3 linked regions of the Homo sapiens genome follow. The protein of the gene in region 2 interacts with the protein of the main gene of each other region in a pairwise test. Each region holds a gene or a part of one and is shown on either strand. Other genes may lie near its edges.

What was found. Proteins that work in one complex are often made in the same cells at the same time.
Region 1: the proteins of SLC18A1 (region 2) and CNIH1 interact in binary tests that used the Homo sapiens proteins (3 or more experiments, as listed by UniProt).
Region 3: the proteins of SLC18A1 (region 2) and MS4A1 interact in binary tests that used the Homo sapiens proteins (3 or more experiments, as listed by UniProt).

The regions. Positions count from the first base shown.
Region 1 is NC_000014.9:54,431,362-54,438,389, forward strand, and holds part of CNIH1 (protein cornichon homolog 1), read right to left. Parts: intron 5,077-7,028; coding exon 5,008-5,076; intron 860-5,007; coding exon 747-859; intron 1-746. UniProt on the Homo sapiens protein: Involved in the selective transport and maturation of TGF-alpha family proteins.
Region 2 is NC_000008.11:20,145,132-20,152,159, forward strand, and holds part of SLC18A1 (chromaffin granule amine transporter), read right to left. Parts: intron 5,614-7,028; coding exon 5,535-5,613; intron 4,597-5,534; coding exon 4,545-4,596; intron 2,940-4,544; coding exon 2,876-2,939; intron 2,592-2,875; coding exon 2,472-2,591; intron 2,261-2,471; coding exon 2,127-2,260; intron 746-2,126; coding exon 632-745; 3' UTR 1-631.
Region 3 is NC_000011.10:60,458,832-60,465,859, reverse strand, and holds part of MS4A1 (B-lymphocyte antigen CD20), read right to left. Parts: intron 4,789-7,028; 5' UTR 4,700-4,788; intron 3,676-4,699; 5' UTR 3,486-3,675; coding exon 3,327-3,485; intron 2,859-3,326; coding exon 2,739-2,858; intron 1,573-2,738; coding exon 1,516-1,572; intron 1-1,515. UniProt on the Homo sapiens protein: B-lymphocyte-specific membrane protein that plays a role in the regulation of cellular calcium influx necessary for the development, differentiation, and activation of B-lymphocytes.

The sequences.
Region 1 (7,028 bases), on a different chromosome or scaffold from region 2:
GTGATCCACCCACTTCGGCCTCCCAAAGTGCTGGGATTACAGGCGTGAGCCACTGCGCCCGGCCAAGTACATTTTTTTCTGAATCATTTCAAAGTCCATTGTAGACCTGATAACACTTTACTTCTAAATACTTCTTCAGTATATGTCTCCTAAAATCAAGGGCAATAAGGTTTTGACATGCCTATTTAAAACAAAAACTTCTAACTCTATATACGGCAGATATTACTATGGAAGTTATAAAATATTATCTTTTACAAATAACCAAAATTAGTCATAAACACAGAAAGAAATTAGACACATACTGTACATTTTGACTTACCTGAAGTTCAAGGACAAGCAAAGCTAATCTAAGTTGATAGAGGTCAGTGGTCTTGGGAGGTGTGGAGGGTAACTGACTTAAGATGGGGCATAAGTGAATGCTCTGGAGGCTACAACTGTTGTGTATCTTGATCTGGGTGGTAGTTTAACAGGTGTATACGTATGTAAAAATTCATTGAGCTATATACTTCAGACTTGTGCACAACACTAAGTTATACTTCACTTTTTAAAAAAATTCCTTTAAAAATAAAGTAAGCTCTATATGAGGTATTGAAATAGTTTTTGTTCACCCACTTGATTTTTAAAAAAATAAATGCCAACTGATCTTCCATTTTTATGTAGGTGACTAGCATGTAAGATAACCATATCAACCACAGTATATTTAAGTTTTAATTTAAAAAAATATTAAAAGTGTATCTAAATATTACCTCCAAATATGATATGCCAAGAGGGGCATATTGAGACCCAGTGTAAGCCACTCTGCTGCACAAAGAAACATGACACAGAAGAAAGCGTGGATGAGGTACTCTGGGAGTACAAGCTGGAAGGAAAACACAAGCCAGTTATCAAAATGCCTCAGCATTAAGTCAACTACTAATCTGGAAAGCAGGTGGCAACCAAGTTTCCATAATGAAAAATCACTGTTTTCTTAGACTCAGAAATAAAAGATGCTACTGAGTTTTATTTCCATGTTTAACTTTTTACCAAAAGTAGGATTACAGGCAAACTGACCAGAGCATATAGCTTGCACTAACATAGTAAGATACATGACTTAAAATTCAAAGCTCAAATCCTTAGAGAAACAGATCAAATTATATAAAGTTACCACCCAGATTGTTAAACAATATGCTAGTCAACTAGAATACTTTTTCTTTTCACCATTCAACAATGATAGAAGTACAAAAATGAGATATCTGATCACATGCAACATATTAAAAATTCCACAGAAACAAAACTCCCCTTTGGAATTTTACATATCAGTGTTTTTAAGCCTTTAACAAAAACCAGAAATGCTACATACACAATATTTAGCAAACCACATTGCATTCCCACAGAAGTAATTTTTTAATGGAAAGCCAATCAGCCAATAATCTCAGCACAGTGAGGGGAAGAACACTAATATGCGCAAATGTAAAAGATTCGCTTTCTGCAATGTAGGAGGGAAAAGACTGAGTTCTTAACCATGAAATTAAGATTTTCCAGGTTCCCAAGTTCTCATTCTTAGGTGGCCTTTCCGTTTCTTTACCCCTGCTTGCCAACAAAATGCTACAGACACAACAGAAGACCAGTAGAAGCTCAGAACCCAAAAACAAAATAAACCTTTTGGTACTAGGTAATATTAAGTGAAGAAAAATTAATTCGAGCAAAATGCTTTTTATAAAATGACCAGGAGTTAATGCTTTATGTTAAATTATCTTTCTCATCCTAAAGATTTCAGCCTGAGGACTTTGTTAAATAAAAATACCAAAACCTCTCATTGCAAGTTTCAGCCGAAGTATCTCCTGTAAGTCACAGCTACAAAGCCAGTTTCTCAAATGTTTACTTCATACCAAATGGAAATCATATGAATACTTATCATCATCAGATCACTCCTGAGGGGAAACCATGGCTGTAGATATTGTAATCACACTACATACTCAGACCCATTTTCTCATACTCCCAAATTACTCTTTCCAATTTAAAGCTGTAGAGGGGACTTTCTAATGAATACTATTTTTAAAAAAAATCCAGGTAAACAACTCATCTACACCACTAACCAAATATTTTCTACAAACTTAAGCAATACAATAACAAAGGATAAACTCGGCATATGTACCTAAACTTCTAAATAACATTTAAGCCAGCATCTATTTAAGATCAAAGTTCTCTAAACAAGAAAAGGGCCATAGGACTCTGAAACTCAAGGACTATAACCAGAACAAACCAAGAAAAATATACATTTTATTAAGAATTCCACTAGAGTTGCTTTTATAATACTTGTTTAAATTACAGACGTTGTCTTTAAAATATAAGCCTATTTCAGCCCTAAAAAGCCATCTGATACCTAACAAACAAATCCTCATGCAAGGTTTTATCCTACACTTACAGAATGAAGTATGGAAAGAATGATTTTGAAAGCATGAACCCCTCCCGCTCTTAATATTACTTTAATAAAAGTGTTAATAAAGATAATCTACAACTCTACCAGTTCTAATATGAAACAATGCCATTCCCTCCCTTCTCCTCAAAAGGAGTCCAGAAACATTTACTACCCATCTCTCTTAAAAACCAACCCTCTCCGAGCATTCTTTAATGACAAAATTTCCCCATAAGAGACACAAAAATTATTCAATTTAGGAACCAAGGTTCAAACAGAAACTAGTATCCAGAAAAAAAACCTCAAGCAAATATGGCTGAAATGATAACATTTAAACATGCAAAATATAATATTCTCTTGTTAAAGTTCACAATTTAAAAAATAGTGATATTTGTCTTCCCCCATACTTTGGCAGAACTGTCAAAACAAATTTAAATAGGGAAAACTGTCAGATGCACTGCTATTCAGCCAATTATTGGCACCCTATCCAAAAGGCAACCTGTGCTGCTATAAAAACGTCCTTCAACCTCCTGCAGCATTAGGATGTCCCAAGCACATGTCTCTTCTCAGTGAGAATTTCTTTCCGTTAAGAAAAGCCAGGAATCGCACATTACCTGTTAAAATGAAACCTGTCCCTCCTAAATTTACAATACATTAGGAAAATACAAGAACTTGAGCTTCAAAAATTAGGCTGTCTTGAGTTCAAGTTCTGACTCTATCTTAGCTGTATAACATTCGGCAAAGTGCTTTAACCTGGCAAAGCTTCAGTTTACTCTCCTATTCATGAGATAACAATTTACCTACCTCAGGATTGTCATGAGAATTAAATTTAAAAATTCAGGCAAAGTGCTTACCACAGAGCCTAGCACCCAGGAAAATCCTCATCTGATTTCAAATATTTTTACCTTCATCATCATTTGGTTATTGAAGTAATGAAAAGACAAACAGCACAGAATACTATTAATAAACAGCTATCAAAAGGGGAAATTTCAGTTTCTTCATTTCCTGGTAACAACTTCAACTACTTAGGTTAAGATGTTTTAAAATTAACACTTAATGCTTTCCAAGAGAAGGCAAATTCATCTTCTTATGTCTTGTTTCATAAGAGCAAAGAAACAGCTAATAAGTTAATACTTTTAATTGTACCTACATCAACTCTTACTGTAACAGTTCTCTAAAGACAAACTAGAAATCTCTTCCACCATCCACATTTATCTGGGAAACAATAATAAAGTACCAAACTAACTTTCTAGATGCTTTTCCAAATAAAATCCCTCTAGCACCTAGTGCTAGTACACTAGTATGCTAGACAATTAAAATCTACACAAACTCTCCCCTTCGTTAAGTAATTTTTAAAGCTGAATTACTGTATTTTATTTCTTGAAGACATACCCACTGCTTTCTTATAAACAACCAACCTTTCAATTACTGACCAGTCAGGCAAAATCAAATACACAGGCTAAAAGAGTATCTTCCTAAATGCAGGCAAAAATACAAAAAAACAAACTGGGTACCCTGGTGTGTGCCTGTAATCCCAGCTACCCAGGAGATTGAGGCAGGACGATCACTTGACCCAGGAGTTTGATAAGAGCCTGGGCAATATAGAGACACCCCCATCTCAAAAGAAAATTTAAAAATACATACATATATATTTTTTCAAAAACCCTAAGCACAATGGAGCTACATTATCACTAAATTCATGATGGCTCAGAACTCAGTGTAATTCAGGCCTGTTTTAGAAACAGAAAGTAGATACACACTAGAAATAACCACATAGACATTTGTATACAAATTGTTATCTACAAAATTATGGCACCCTAAGTCCAAAGAATGGCATTGCTGCGAGATCCCAGAGCCCCCAGAACAGAGCTATCCACCTAACAGGCTCTGAATAAACATCAGCTGAAAGAATGACTCATTTATTCCAGAATATGCAAACCAAAGATAAAACTAGATATGGCAGATAAGTCCATACTAAAGATTTCACTCACATACTACCTCACAATAAGTCACAACCCGAGAATCATCTCACCATCTATTAGTCATTTTATGTTAACCAACTTTCAAGTACTACACCAAATAATTTCACATAGAAGTGCCTATGGCTATAACATAAAAAAACGCATACGCATTTAACAGCTTTCCCTACTTGACTGGGCCAGCAAGCATATATTTGCATAAAATATGAAATTTCATGAAATCATAAACCTCAACAGGCATATGAACGAGCACACTGAACAAAACGTTACAAATACAAATGCCCTAACCCTCCCCATGAAATGAATATAGCATTAAAACATTTAACTAAAAAGCAGTACACACCTTTAATGCAATTTTGACTCTTTTAATCTTTTTGACCTTTTCAACTGTCTTTGGCCGACAATGTAAAAAGCAGATTGGAAGAATGTTAGTATGACAGCTGACAAGATCACCAGCAGATTAATAATAGAATAGTCAAGCACGACAGGAAAAAGAAGATTTTTTAAATTCTGCCTACTTCAAAAAGTACAAATATATTATGCTACTCAGAATACTGGCCATTTTCAAATTACTTCAAGTTAAAAACAAACATATTTTTAAAATCTAAAGATAAATCCTATATTATAACTTACGGGATTCAGGGTATTACACTGGTCTATAGGATTCTTGTAATCAGTCTTCAGCTCATCAAATGCTATAATCTAAAATAAAATTAAAACAGTTAGGACCACTCACTTTAATTAAAAGCAGCAACAAACCTGCCCCATCTTCAAATAATTATTAAAGTTAATAAAACAAGAACAAAAGTACACCAAGATCCCAAATACCAATTTACAGTAAACTCATATATGACAAAAAGAACCAGAATGCGATTTAAAGTGAAAACACTCTTATCTCAGTATCACTAAAATTTGGTATTACTGTAATAAATACCTTCAATTTTCAATTTCGTCAATGCCTCTGCTCAAGTTATTTCAACTTATCTCTACTCGAAATAATCTTCTGAGTAGAAAAATAATTTCAACTGTTTATCCAAATTCCTCTTTATCCTAAAAAAAAAACAAACCTTCCTAGGTCAACTTCTTTCTGCAGGCTTTCCTAACTCCTTTGGGCAGAAGTAATTGCCCACATCTCCACACAGCATGGGACTCTATAATGCCATCGATATGGCTTTTCTCACCCTGGAGTGTGGTATTTACACACAGGTCTGTCTGCCCCTCTACACTCTCAGGGAGAAGGACCATTTTTATTTATCTGTGCATGCTCCTCCTCCCTTGGCACAGTGCTCAGTGGGACACTAGAGATGGATTCGAACTCTTCAATGTGTTCCCATTGGTGCCCAAACACATACATTTGTAAGGATGCTTTTGTCCACACTCTGGAGGAATGTGGCTTCAACCTCAAGGGTCACTAGAATGTACATTAAGAGTCAAAATAGGGACTCTGCACCACTTTGTGGCATCATTTCAGGTGACAAAGAAAGAAAACAAAGGCAGCAAGTTGATGGGGGAGCCATTTTAGTTGCTAACACTACTCACCCCAGGGACACACAAACTAAGCTACCCTTCCCTTAATGAGTTAGGAATAGTATCTTTATATGTGAAAGTGTTGCTCAATATTATCAGTAATCAGTAAAGTTACATATTTCCATCTTTTAACATGACTGTTTATTTCCCTGTTAAAATTTAGATTCATAAAAAGACGGTTTTTTTAATTTCTAGAGTTCCATAAAATTCACCCACCTGCCCTAATAAAAACTCCAACCAAACAACAATAGAAGGAAAATAATAAAACATTAGAATGTAATCTCTGAAAGAACAAAGATTGTTGTATTTACTATTATGTCCCAGGGCCTAAAATATAAAATAGTGCCTGGCACATAGTTAAGTGTTCAATAAATATTAACTGGAAGGAGGGGGTGAAAAAAATAGCACTAGGGATTAAAAAAAAAAAATGCAGAACTCACCAGGGGGATTTCCCTTGGCTAATGACACCTAACACAAATGTTAAAAACATACATGTGTAATTAGAAAATACTAATTTCTGATTACTTATGGACGTTATTAGTCTGCTACTTGACGTCAGCCGTGGTATATAACCCCAATGCATTTTAGTAATAAAGCTCAAGACAAGGATGATAATCATAAGTACTTGTCTATAACAAGATCCAACTTAACAGAATACAAAACTTGTCTTTAAAACTGACATTTAATTGGACATTTTCTCCAGGTGACTTCAAGGGTTTTTTTTTTTTTTTTCTTGAGACAGGGTCTTACTCTGTCACCCAGGCTGGAGTGCAGTGGCACAATCTCGGCTCACTGCAACCTCCACCTCCTCGGCTCAAATGATTCTCCTGCCTCAGCCTCCGGAGTAGCTGGGACTACAGGTGCATGCCACCATGCCTGGCTAATTTTTGTAGTTTTTGTAGAGATGGGATTTTACCATGTTGCCCAGGCTGGTCTCAAACTCCTGAGCTCAGGTGATCCACCTGCCTTGGCCTCCCAAAGTGCTGGGATTACAGGAATGAGCCACTGTGCCTGGTCACAGGGATTTTTTAACTATGTTGTTGAATGGGTTTCTCTTTGAGTGCTATAGGCTAGGGTTTTCGAACCTCTTCTGAGAATATTCTTAATGATTTTCAAATCTTTTTGCA
Region 2 (7,028 bases):
AAAATAGAAGACACTTTTCACTGAGGGTAAAGCCCTTTTAGCAGCTCTAGATTTAGCCACAGAAAAATCACTCACTTTATTAAAAAAAAAAATAAATGAAAAAAAACAAAACAAAACTCTTCAAGCTGGCATTTGGCAGCAAGACAATGCTGAGAACATTTTCTCAACTCGGCTGGGAAAACCCGGGAAAGAACACGTTGAGGAAAAGAGGGTAACACTCTTCCGATCTGTTGGGACTATGCCAGAGAAAATCAGGCAACAGATTAAAGAGGCTTGTCAGTCACCCCACTGGTTTCAGGGGCACATTACTCACTACCACCTCTATGCAATGAGTCACCCCTTGCAGAACCCGTCACAGCTCAAGTTTAATCAACCTCACAGCAGCGGGAAGGTGCATCACTCTGTCTTCCCATAAAAGATGGGCCACTGCGGCACCAAGGCATAGAGGAAGAGCTACAAGTTACACAGGTGAGAAGAGTATCAGGGACAGTGTCCATGGGAGGGGAGGAAAGAAGATTCCCAGGCAGAGGTATGTGAAGCCCACTGAGCCGTGGGCTCAGCCATGGTGATCTGGTCCCAGGGAAAGAGGTGGTCACTGAGGCATCATGAATTCAAGGAGCACCTTCTGCTGCTACTCCTCATGGTCAGGCTCCTCATCACTGTCCTCCCCCAGAGGAAATTCCTTCGTGGGCTTCTGGGTTGCATACATCCGGGTCTCCATGGGGCAGTCCTGACTCAGAATAGCCTGCAGAGAGAGGCAAGAAGAGAAGCCACTGCACATTATTATCATTTTTTTTTTTTTGAGACGGAGTCTCGCTCTGTTGCCCAGGCTGGAGTGCAGTGGCGCAATCTCGGCTCACTGCAAGCTCCGCCTCCCGGGTTCATGCCGTTCTCCTGCCTCAGCCTCCAGAGTAGCTGGAACTACAGGCGCCCATCACCACGCCAGGCTAATTTTTTGTATTTTTAGCAGAGACGGGGTTTCACCATGTTAGCCAGAATGGTCTCGATCTCCTGACCTCGTGATGCGCCCGCCTCAGCCTCCTAAAGTGCTGGGATTACAGGCGTGAGCCACCGCGCCCGGCCAACCACCGCACATCTTTTTTTTACCAATCTCCTCATTCCGTCCTCCCACTAGTTCTTCCAAGGCTGGCATTGCTAAGTACTCAAGAAACATGCATAGGACCCTCTGCATGTACATGCACCAGCCTCCCGGGGTACCTAGTATATCAACCCTTGTCAGGACAAGTATCTCATTTGCTTTTAACTGAATTTAACAGTGGTAGTGAAAGTTACAGCAGGAAGCCAAATGGAATCACCACCACTCCCTATCACACCTTCATGTCTTCTTTTGTTCCCTTGAGCAGCCTCTGTCGGTATCCCAAACCCATCAGGCCCTCAGGATGTTTGTGCTGCAGTAAGAGGAAAGTGCTTTATTAAAGAAAATCCTATGGTATGGATCTCTTCCCTGGGGTTTTTGTACTTTTAAAAACGTGACCTGCTGACCAACATGGATAAACCCCATCTCTACTAAAAATACAAAAAATTAGCCAGACATGGTGGTACATGCCTGTAATCCCAGCTACTTGGGATGCCAAGGCAGGAGAATCTCTTGAACCCGGGAGGCAGAGGTTGTGGTGAGCCGAGATCACACTATTACACTCCACCCTGGGCAACAAGAGTGAAACTCCATCAAAAAAAAAAAAAAAAAGTGACCTGGTAAGGATAATGTTGCACTAGAGTGAATGAGTGGATGAACGGATGTGCCAATGGAATTCTGCCCACTTATGAGGGAGTTAACTTGGTAACTCACATCTTGCTAGTAACTAGCAAGCTAAGAACAGTAACTACAGGATGTCTTTGATGGTCCTCTGCCCCCATTTCCCTTCTCTACTGAAGACCCTTCCTGATAGCCCCAGAAAGAGGGAAGTGGTTACTTAGAGAAGGGAAATTAAGGAAGTGCACAAAAGAAATATGAAGATGAAAGGGGATTGGGAAACATGGCAAAGCAGAGAGAGTATCAACAGAGCAATAGAGGGAGGAAATAACAGCCCAGGATGAAAGGGAATGAGAGAGATGATGGAAAGAAACAGAAGTGAATTTCTCTTTTAACAGTCGGTGCTCCTTACAAGCTTCTCTTCCTTTGCCGGGGGGCTCCGCAGGTAGTAGCAGAGTGGAGCATAGACGATGTTGATGACCCCAGTGATGACCATGAGCCAGGGAAAACCGATGGCCTTTACAATGGCACCACCGGTGGATGGACCTGGGAGGGATACATCAAAGTCATAAGTGTCTATGGAGCCTCCATATGGAGCATCCTCCACGTAGGACACTATGCTAGGGGCAGTGGGTGACCCAGAGGATGTCTCAGCGTCAAAGATCTCCAGAACCCTAGGAGGATAGCTTCCTGGCTGCACTTCCAGCTGGTAAAGAGTAGACAGGGGAAAGTGGGGCACCAGGTCCTGCCAACATACCTATAGCAAAGCCCATGCAAAAAGCCACATCAGCGATGGCGTAGACACTCCCATACACCGAGGTGTGGCGTAGATCCACCAGGTGCCCCATGATGGGCATCATAGAAGAATCCACCATGCCTGTGGCCAGAGCAAACAGGACACAGTCAGCCCCACCCACAGTTAGTACCACCCCGCCTCTCCTCCTCCATTTAGTCCATTTGCTTTGTCTGCTGTCTTCTGCCTCGGACTAACACCTGTTCCAGGTGGGAATTACGAGCTCATCTCTCCACAACCCTGCCAGCTGCCCTCCTGATCCTTCTGCCTCTGCACCTACCTCCTCTGATGAGAAAAGGGGGAGGAAAGGCATCAGACCCAAAGCCAACATGCAGGGGCTTATTGTTTTCTTTGAGGGCACTTCTTACCTATGGCAAGGCCAAGCCCTGCATTGGGGCCAATGAGACCAAAAATATTGTGAGCCAGAGGAACCTGCATGGGGAAGGAGGAAGAGTCATCAGGACTCCAGATGGGTCAGGTGGGAGCAAGGTTCAAAGAGTTTTCACATGAAATGCATTTATTCAGAGTGCACTATTGGCCACATACATCATCCTCCTGCACTCTCAGACTTTCTCATGGAAAAGAATCTATACCTCCATTTTAAGGATATGAAAACTTGACCAGCGCTGTTGTGTTTATTTATTGCTCTATCCAGAGTTACAGATCTAATGAGTGGCAAGATCAAGTTTGGACCTCAGACTTGGCTCCATTATGCTCTAACGAGGGTCTTCCTCTGTTCCATGGATACTTTCTCCCCTTCCTCTACCCCTCTTCACCTAAACATACACTCCTGGTCTCATTCTTCATGGAATAAAGTTGCCTCTGTTTTCCATTATGGACATCACTGAAAGGTTTCATTTAGACTTCTAACTTGGTAGCTGTTGGAAAAAGAAGATAGAGAAGAGGCCCCAACAACCAGTTAGCTGTAAGCTAGAGGGGGCAGGTGGTGTGGCTTGGGTCCCCTGTCAGGAAGCTTGTGAGACTCATTCCCATTGCCCTCCCAATCCCCCAACAAAAACCCCTTCTTCCCTCTTTTTCAGGTTCCTTACCTCCCTCTCTGGGTACCTGCCATTCAAACCTGCTACCCCAGGACACTCACCCCTTAAGGGTTTAGCATACCGTTTAGATGCTGCTGGCTGATAACAATTTTTAGGGTTCATGCCTCAAGAAATGTTTATAAATTATCAATAGTATTGGCTGAGATTCACTATGGGCTCACCATGTGCCAGACACTGTGGTTTATTTGGATTACCTTGACAACCCTGTGGACACCATCAGAACCCTCTCTACATAGATGAGGATGCTGAGCACACGGAGATGAAGTAACCTGCTCAAAGTCACATGCATAGAAAGTGGCAAAACCTGCCATGGAACCCGGATCCCATGCTCCTGCTCAGGACCTCCAGCTGGTCTTGAGCACAGTTTACAGTGCCTTGTAGCCCTGTTCTTCTCTCCCTCAGGCCTAGGAGGTTTGTGTGTTTCTCATCCCCACTGGGGAGAGGAGGAAATGAAGGCTTTGAGAACTTGAGGGGGATTCTTGGAAATGGAAAAGTCCTTCTTTCTTTCTTCTTCTATCAAGCCTCTGGTGCCAGAGACTGGGACATAGATGATGGTTCCCTGGGGATTTATGAGGCTCTGTCAGGGTGGGATGAGTAAATGAAGTCATAAAACGCACCATTTTGCCATCCCCAGAAATGGATACCAACATGTATCACTTCATATGCCCACATGTACAGCCTCAGACCTCCGGCTCCAGCTGCCCTACAGCCCTCTTCCTCTCCTTTCCCACTTCCCCTCAAAGGAAAGCCACTGCAGCTGGTGGCCTCTTCCCCCGTGCTAAATTCCTGCCTATTCAGAAACAGTCTTTCTGACAGTCCTTGCCAAGCCATCTCTGCTCATCTTAAAGGAAATTAGTCTTTAAATGTCTGTGTCTTTCTCTCTCTCTCTCTCCCTCTCTCTCTCTCTCTCTCTCTCTCTCTGTCTGTCTGTCTCTCGCTCTCTCTCTCCTTCCCCTCCCCCAGGTCTTCTTATACTTACACAGAGCAAGCTGGTACCTACTACCAGCATCCCGATTAGGGAACACAGCCACCTGGAAGAAAAAAGCCATCATCAAACACCACTAGGGGAGAGCTCCCCTCCACCTGTACCCCATCACCGCCATGCTGACCTGTCCCACCAGCCCTAATCCCAGCAACCCCTTAGGACCTGAGGACAGCATCCCTACATGACCAGTTTGTACCCAAATGAGCTCTCTCCCTGCCCTTTCCTTGTCTCCCCTGGCTCCATCCCTTTTTCTATAGAAAGGCAGAGGAGGTGCCGTGGGACACACTCTTCCTTCCCTTACAGGAGGAATCAGCTGACTCAGGAGGCACTTGTTCCTTAGAAGTAGCCCTCAAACTTAACTCATGCTGTTGCCCAGCTCAGACTGCCTCCTACCTGTCCTATTTTATTTGGTCCTTGAGGTCTGTCTCAAAAAACACAGAAAGTACCAAACTTCTTTCCTTCTCTGATGTCCTATGGCAGTGCTTCTAAAATCTTGATGCTAAACTCCAAAGATAAAATTAAAGCTGTCCTTATTGTAGTGAAGGGACAGAATGGAGACTCATAGCTCTTGGCCCCCAACCCTTCCTCCTCAGTGGCCTCTGGGGTGCCTCTATAGAACTCCTTAGGATTCCACAGAACATAATTTGAAAACTACTTTCCCAAAGTACTGCATTTTTCATAGCTGTTCTCTGTTGTGGTTATTTTATCTCCTCAACTGGACAGCAAATGGATGGAAAGTAAGGGGTGCCCCTCATGTATCCACTGCCTCTTCTATAACAATCAGCTCAGAGCTCAGGACAATCCATTCTCCATACCACCCTCACCACTCACTCACTGCCCATCCTCCCAGTGGGAAGTTTTTATCGGTGTGTACTCATCCTAAACTTTCAACCGTATGGAAGCTGTTCATCATTCCAAGATCAGGAACGGGCGCTCTTCCATCTTACATTTCTACTGTTCGTCCCAGATCCCGAGGCTACATACCGACCCATCTTGTTGGCCAACACACCAAAGAGGTTGGTGCCAATGAGGTAGGACACACTGGCAGGCAAGAAAGCTAGACCTGTGGAAGGACACAGATCCTTACCTTAGGACATGTCCAATTTACTCTAAAATGCCTTGTCTCGTACAAGACACTGAAGTCCACCCCTGTAACCTTCCAAGATCCCCAAACCACTTTGTTTTATGATCTGGGGACCTTTGTGCAAACCCACAGTAGTTGCCATAGGACCCCCACACCTCTCCTTTCTTCAGGAGCAAGGCTTTGTTTAGCCTCAGTACTTTTCTTTTTGTTTTCTTTCTTTTTTTGAGACAGGGCCTCACTCTGTCACCCAGGCTGGAGTGCAGTGGTACAATCTCAGCCCACTGCAGCCTCGACCTCCTGGGATCAAGTGATCCTCCCAGCTCAGCCTCCCAAGTGGCTGGGATTACAGATGAACACCACCACACCTAGTTGTTTTTTTTTGTTTTTTTTTTGTTTGTTTGTTTGTTTGTTTGTTTTGTAGAGATGGAGTCTCGTCATGTTGCCCAGGCTGGTCATGAAATCCTGCCTGCCTTGGCCTCCCAAAGTGCTGGGATTACAGATGTGAGCCCCCACACCTGGCCTAGCCTCAGTACATTTAATGTGCTTCCAGCTCCCCACTTAGATTCCTAATGAATGGCCCTGATGAGCCGTTCTCATGTATAAAATACCCTTGATTATCAGCGTGAGAATGTGAGCTTCAGAGGTGGTGTGGTTGGGTGCCACATACCCATACATAATTCCTGGGAAGTGAATTCCTGCCTTGCTACTTACCAGCCCTTCTATTTCTCTGAGAGGGATCTTGGATTAATTACTAAACCTTTCTGAGCCTTGGTTTCCACATCTGGAAAAAGCAAAGCTATGATTATATCATACCGGGTTACAATGTGGAGCAAATTAGGTAATGCATGCAAAAGTATTTTGTAAATTGAAGTCCTGAACACATGGCTTTTTGTGACAGTAGAGGGAAGTGTTCAGGAAACATGGGCTTTGGAGCCACACAAAGCTCCAAATTTTGCATTCAAACCATGGCTTGATGACTTGTTAGCTCTGTGACTTTGGACAATTTACTTAACCTGTCTGAGTCTCTTCCATTCATTCATTCATTCATTCATTCATTTTAACAAACTTTGACCATGTGTCAGGTATTCTGGGGGCTGGGAATACAGCGGTGAATAAGACAAACAAAATTCTAGCCCTCAGCTAGCTTACACTCCAGGGGAGGGAGACATACAATGAACAAGTAAACAAATACACAAAAAAGATAATTTTGAAAAGTGTTGAGTTATGTGCATGAAATTTAATGTGGTGATATAGCAGAGCAACTCAGAAGGGCTATCTGGGATTTCAGGGTTGGGGAAGGCTTCTTTGGGGAAGTGACATTCAAACTGAGACCTTAATAACCAAAAGAGAGCACTTCAAGCAGAAAATAAAAAGCACCTAATGGAAATTAAGAT
Region 3 (7,028 bases), on a different chromosome or scaffold from region 2:
GAGGGAATTCCAAATGCAACTGCCCTGACTCACAAAGCAACTACAACTAAATATACTGAAGTTCTCTCAGTTGTTTTTAGCCTCTTTGTCACTATAAAATAAAATCATGTCTCTATCCTGTTCTTTTCTCAGTCTTCCCTATCTCATTCACCATCCATCTGTTTTATAAAGCAAAAATTCTAAGAGTAACCCTTGATTCTATATCTTGTATCCTTGCATTTCCTTCACTGCCACTGCCACCATCCTAGTAGGCACTCAATAAATGTTTGTTGAATAAGTGAAGATAAATATTATCCAGTTTATTATCTGCCTTCATAAATAGGTAGAGGGAAGAGAGTGAAGAAGTTTCTTGTATCACACTTTAGTGGGATGGTATTATGAAGTATAGGTTGGGAAGGTTCAGATAGAACCCTCTAGATCTGTACTATCAAATAAATGGAAATAAAAAAAGCAGAAGCAACAACAGTAACAACATCTATTCCTGCTGACATAGGTTGCAATCAGCCCCAGTCAGCTATCTTCCAAAATACAATTAGGGCTGATGTCTTTGGGTAGCATAGGTAAGAAAATATCAGTGTGAATGTTCTACCTTGCAGGGATGATAAAAGGTTGAAACAGGAAAATATAAATAACAAGTACCATAATGATATGGGATTATTGATTATTATTTTATGCTGCGCATATTTCATTCCTGGCTCTATGACCTACACATGGCAAGTCAGTAAATCTGGCTGTATCTAGAGAATAATTTGATGTTCATAAAAAGTTTTCCCCCCAAACTGAGTGTGTCAGGCCACTTTAAGACAGGAACCATCTCAATCCACCCATTCCCTCATTGATTATGAAAGTGACACAGTTTAGTAACAGTGTTGGGGGAGGAATTTTTTGGGAGCGAACTTGCTGCTAAACTCTTTTCATCCATACAGCATCAGCAGCTCTGCAGGCCAGTTTCCTCTGGATCTAGATGAGTCCCTAGGGGTTTTATGGGCAAGACCACAGTGTAGTACTTTATAGCCTGTGAAGCACCATCACACACTCTACTGCCTTTCATCTCCATTGGACGTCACATGGTAGCAAGGACTGTTACCCTTCCTTTCTAGGTGAAAACTCAGGAACATAGAGGTAAACTGACTTGTTCAATGTTACGGCCAAAAAATGGCTTAGCTAGAATTTGAATCAATCATGACATTGATCAGATAATTTTCCTAAATGGTGATCTGGGAGAAATGATAGGGCTTTCAGAAAGGTCTATTATTTTCACACAGCATTTAACGTTCTTAAGACTGTAGGTATGGTTTTCATGGATCTGCTTTTAGTTCTGTTCCCATGAACATACTTCAGATAGACCTCGCTTCTAAGTTTTTCATAAATAAAATCACAATAACATTGTGGAGGGTCTTTGCTTTTTAGGGCTGAGAGGCTGTGATACCTTGGCTTTTTAAGGGTCTCAGTTTTTAACCGAAAAAAATAGGTACTTCTCTGACATGTGGGAAAGAAGGACATATGGTTACTTGCCAAACACTTCCTGGAGTTTTTCTCCGTTGCTGCCAGGAGTGATCCGGAAATAATATACTGTAAAAAAGAGAGGTGGGGGAGATGGAGAGGGGGTGGGCAAGACAGGAGATAGAGGAGAGAGGGAGATCACTTTTTAACATTGATAACTGGTCAGAAAGAAGCCTACACTTTCAGCAACTTTCACACAACCATCCACCCATTTTTATCAGTTGTATTCATTTTTCAGCTGTCATATTCCTCCTTTATTCAGGCTCAGTGACACTAAATTCATGCCTTTTACTCAATCATCTGGGGATCTGTGACTAGGAATATAGTAAGACCAAAGAGACAGAACTCAAATTTCCTCATCAATTAATACTCATACCATAAATTTAAAAGTTTTATTTCTAGTTTTTCTTTGTTTTTAACTTGTGGAACTGCCCTTTGGGGTTCACAGTGACATAAATGACTCTGATGCCCTCTGAAGAGTGAACTGATGCAGAAGGAAATACTTGACCTGAATGGCACAGGCACTCCATGAAAACATTGGCTGTTACAGGAAGTGATGATGACTATTGCTCATCTTCCTTTTCTCACATTCAGGCTGTAGAATGGAGGAAACTCTTGTTCTAACCCATCTCTACTTGTTTGGAAAATTTTAATCCTGGACTTATCTTTTATAGTGGCAACTATGAAAAGTATCACGGGGAAATAAACATCACTGTCCTATGTGCCACACCCAGACAGGGTTACAGATTTGGAAAACATGTACGTAAAACAGCCAAAAGAGTGCTGCTCTGTCGATAAGCAAAATGAGACTGACTTGTGATGGGACAGGTTTCACCAGGTACCATAGTAACCAAACAGAATTGTAAGCAAGAAGGGGTAGATGGAAGTGGATGTTCCTGCTGCCTCTTGCTTTCCAAAACATCTTGCTATCTAGTCTAAATGTCTAGGGCCACCCTCCCCACCAGAACTGACTTTGGAGAGTTCTTGCTTTGGACAGTCCCTGTGAGATCCATGCAGGGCCCCTTTCTCTGAATTCACATGAAACAGGACCACTGACTCTCAACCATGGGATTTATACTCAATTTGGTCAACCTGTCTTCTTAATTACTTTAACCCAATAATATTTCCTACTCATATATTTCCCTCAACACAGAAATAATCTGGCATATCCCTGTGGAGCCTTTTAACATTTTTGTCTGCACCATTTCCCAAATGGCTGCTATTCTTTTACTCACCATAATGCCTCCCCAGAGAGGGTACCACACAGTCACACAGATGGGTGCATAGATCCCTGCTGGGATCATCAGAAGACCCCCCAGGGCAATGTGGAAGAGCCCATTCATAATCTGGACAGCCTGGGGAGAGAACAGAGGCAGCAGTGGATGAGCTGAAATCATCACTGCTAGCAGGCAAAGACAAGGTTGGAAGCTCTGGCTCCTGACTTGGAGCTGTGAGGAATGCCTAAAGGAAGCAGTGGAGGTGCCAAGAATTTTGTCTTTTTCTTGTTCGAATCTGTTTCCTCAACCACATGGGGCATTTCCAGGGAGCAGGTATGCCTGGGATTCTGGCAATGGACTGGGATGGGGGACCCCTGCATATACAAGCCCCAAAACCAAAAGGTGACATAAGATCACCCAGAGGTGATCTAAGTGATAACTTCTCTGATGCACCCCTGATTTGGCCCACTGTGTTAGACATAAAGAAGACATCAGGTTGGATCCCAATTCTTCAAATTGGATTGAATTCTGTATGTGGCCTATACCGCATCAGCTTCTGTCAGCCAGAGAATCCCTACGACATGGGATGGAAGGCAACTGACTTACCCCCAAAGTCTTAGATTCCCTCATGAAGAAGCTTTGCGTGGGGCCCACCAGTGAAGACATCCTCCTGAAGAGTGGTTTTGGACCAGATTGCATAGCAATAGGGCCTTTCATTGGCTCTGCCGGGAAAGTCCCATTTACTGAATTTCTGGGTGTTGTCATTTTGCTCTCAAAACTCCTAAAAATAAAACAAATAACAAAATGAGGAGAGCAAGAACAAGATTTTTGGCAGTCTTACCTTGTGTCATGCATCTGAATGCTTCTCTCAGCATTTCCTCCATGAGTGTCATTGAGGGTAGACATGGCCTCTTCCGAGTGACCTTGGATCTGAGGCAAGGCCTACTGCTGAGTTCTGAGAAAGGAGATGGAGGGGTTGTTTAGGAAGAGCATGTGGGCCCAGGAGTCCCTGCCAGTGATCTTGACAACTGGGTTTGGGGCATTCTTTATCTTTGTAGAGGACACCTTGCATATATGACTGCATGTCCTCTTTGTTTCTTATTCCTGGATGCTTTTCTTTTGCTTTAATATTGAAAAATGTATTTTCAATGGACTTGTCCTTGTCCTTTTGCTTATCTGCCTTTGTGCATTATGATGGGCCAGAGGCAACATTGCAGAGTATGGTAAGGACTATCTGTAGAAGCAGGAGGGGTCGATTCCAGGCCTCTCTCTGTCTCTAACTCTGCCACCTTGTGCAAGTCACATCAAGAAGGCTCTCTAGGTCGGGCACGGTGGCTCATGCCTGTAATCCAAGCACTTTGGGAGGCCAAGATGGGCAGATCACCTGAGGTCAGGAGTTTGAGACCGGGCTGGCTAACGTGGCAAAACCCCATCTCTACTACAAATACAAAAATTAGCCAGGCATGTTGGTGTGCACCTGTAATCCCAGCTACTCGGGAGGCTAAGGCAGGAGAATTGCTTGAACCCAGGAGGCAGAGGTTGCAGTGAGCTGAGATCATGCCACTGCATTCCAGCCTGGGTAACAGAGTGAGACTCGGTCTCAAAGAAAAAGAAAAGGCTCTCTAAGGCTTTCTAATGCAGTATATAAGACTGTGGCCTCCTGAGTCAGATTGCCTAGGTTTCAATAGTGATTCCTCCATTTGTTCTGAGATGTTGGGCAAGTTCTTTAAATTCTCTGGGCCTCAGGTTCAACTGTAAAATTGAAATAATAATAATTCTTATCTCGTGGGCTGCTATAACACTTAACTGGGCTCATGGTCTGTGCATGGCTAGTGTCTTTTTGTTCAGGTGTAGCTCAAATGTCAGCTCCTAGAGGAGCCTACCTTGAACCCTCAATCTATAACATGTACTCCTATTTGCTGTCTTTTACAAAATCCTATCTTAATTGCTTTACGGCATTGATCACTGTAGGAAATTACCTTATTTATTTAATTGCTTATTGTCAGTCTCTTCCCCACAGAATGGAAGTTCCATCAAAGTAGAGATTTTGTTCTCTCTTGTTCAGGATCTAAAATAATTTTTGGATTTAGTTACTTCTTAATAAATATTATTGAAGAAATAAATGTATGCAAAGAACCCATGTTGGAATAAATAGTTATTTTTGTTGCTATTCTTGTTCTTTGTACTTTGCTGAGCATTAGTTTCGATTTTATCCTTCTGTAAAGTTAGAACAGTACCCCTCTCTGAGATGTAAGACATAAATAAGTTAACATATGTAATTGTGCCTAGGACAAAGGGAGAGTGTAGTAAATGCTATTTATCAGTTTTCATGATTTATTCATTTCTGAAGTGAGAAGGCAATTAATACGGCCCTTTCCAGCTCAGACATTTTAAGATTCTGTTCAATCTTCATCTTGGGTTTCCTTAGCATTCACTTGTTCATGTTAACCACTTATGCGGACTCCACTGGGTCTTTCCTGGAATCTGAAAATCCCTCTTTTGGGGACACATCTTTGCTCTTGTCTTTATTGCTTGTAAGTCATGTAAGATGTCTTGGAAATCAAGACTGTCTATCCAGGTCACATATCTTACTGAAGCCGGTGCCACATCCCAGCCATTAGACCACAGCCTGAAGTATATCTTACTGAAGTCAATCAGAGCTGAGTAGCTGCAGGTGTGCTGTAAAACAGGCAGCTGACTACTGTCACATTTATACCTACTTTAGGGCTGGAAGTAAATTTGACACATGGCATCTCATCTGAGCCTTATAGAACAGGCAAGGGGTGAATCATCACCTGTGTTTTATAGAAGAGGAAACAAGGGCACGGAGAAGCTAGGTTACTTGTGCCAAGTTACATAATTAGTAAATATTTTTTGTTTGTTTGTTTGTTTTCATGACAGGGCCTCGCTCTGTCGCCCAGGCTGCAGTGCAGTGTCATGATCACAGCTCACTGCAGCCTCTACCTCCTGGGCTCAGGTGATCCTTCTGCCTCAGCCACTGGAGTAGCTGGGACCACGGGCAACCACCACCATACTCAGCTAATTTTTATATTTTTTTTAGAGATGGGGTCTTGCCATGTTGCCCAGGCTGGTCTTGAACTCCTGGACTCAAGCAATCTGCCCCCCTCCACCTCCCAAAGTGCTAGGATAACAGCTGTGAGCCACCATGCCCAGCCTGTAAAGATTTAAAATGAAGACTTGGATCTCTCAAATTAGGCATCCAGGGTACCAGGCTGCTTTGTCTCCTGTGAGAAATAGGAATTCAGCCTTTCCCTTATGACCCCTCTTTTCTCCTTCCAATATATGCACTATGTGAATGACTATAAATCAGTTGAAAAGTATTATCTGTCTGGCGCATGGGCTAGAGGAAAGAGAGAAGAAACTTTGGTTGTTTCTCACTTGATTTTGCCCCTGCCCTAGATAGCCAGATGCCACATGGTCCTGGGGATCTGCTTTGTACAACAAGCCACTCTACAAGACCTCTAACAAAAACAGATATTTTAATATAGCCCACTAAAGAGTTTGCGGACTGATTCTGGTCACTAGGTAGGATTTCTAGAGCTAGTCCAAACCTCAGAAACCATTCTGTTCATTTCACAAATGAGGAAGCTGCAGTCTGGGTATAGAATTTGCCTTAGTAAAGACCTCACAGTTAGCAACAGAGCCAAGCTAGAAGGCACTCACCATGGCTCTGATGTTGATGCTTTTTCTGCTGTACCATAGGTGAGTCCAGATAATTATAGTTGTTTACTGAGCACCTACTATATACTAGAGATATTGTATATGGTATTGCCAACTCACTCAACACCTTCGTAAGTAGGCATTTTGACTACTTTCTGCAGATGAAGAAATGGAGGTTGAGAGAGGTTATTTTTCCCAAGGTCCTATGGCAAGTATGGAATGAGCTGGGAGTCACTACACTCCGCCCCAGAGGGGTAACTTTAGTGAAGATAACTTAAAATGCAAAGGTCATCAATTGTTTGAACTGAAGGAGATGATTGGACTGCCATTGTTTTAATTTCATTTTATTCATCAACTGCTTGATTAAAGCTGTGTCTGTATTATTGGCGAGATAAACTTTTTTGTAAGCCAATTCTACTTGGGCTATGCCTGTTGTAACTAATGGCAATAATGACCATGAGGGCTGTGTGTGTGTGTGTGTGATATTTCTCTGTTAAAATGGTATCTCATGGTGGCAACTATACTTCTACAAACCTTAAACAAATATTTGTATAAAATAGTAGTTTATAAAGAAACACATGAGTGCTTTCTCTGTTTTTTTATTTCTTATGGAAACTATCTTTCATA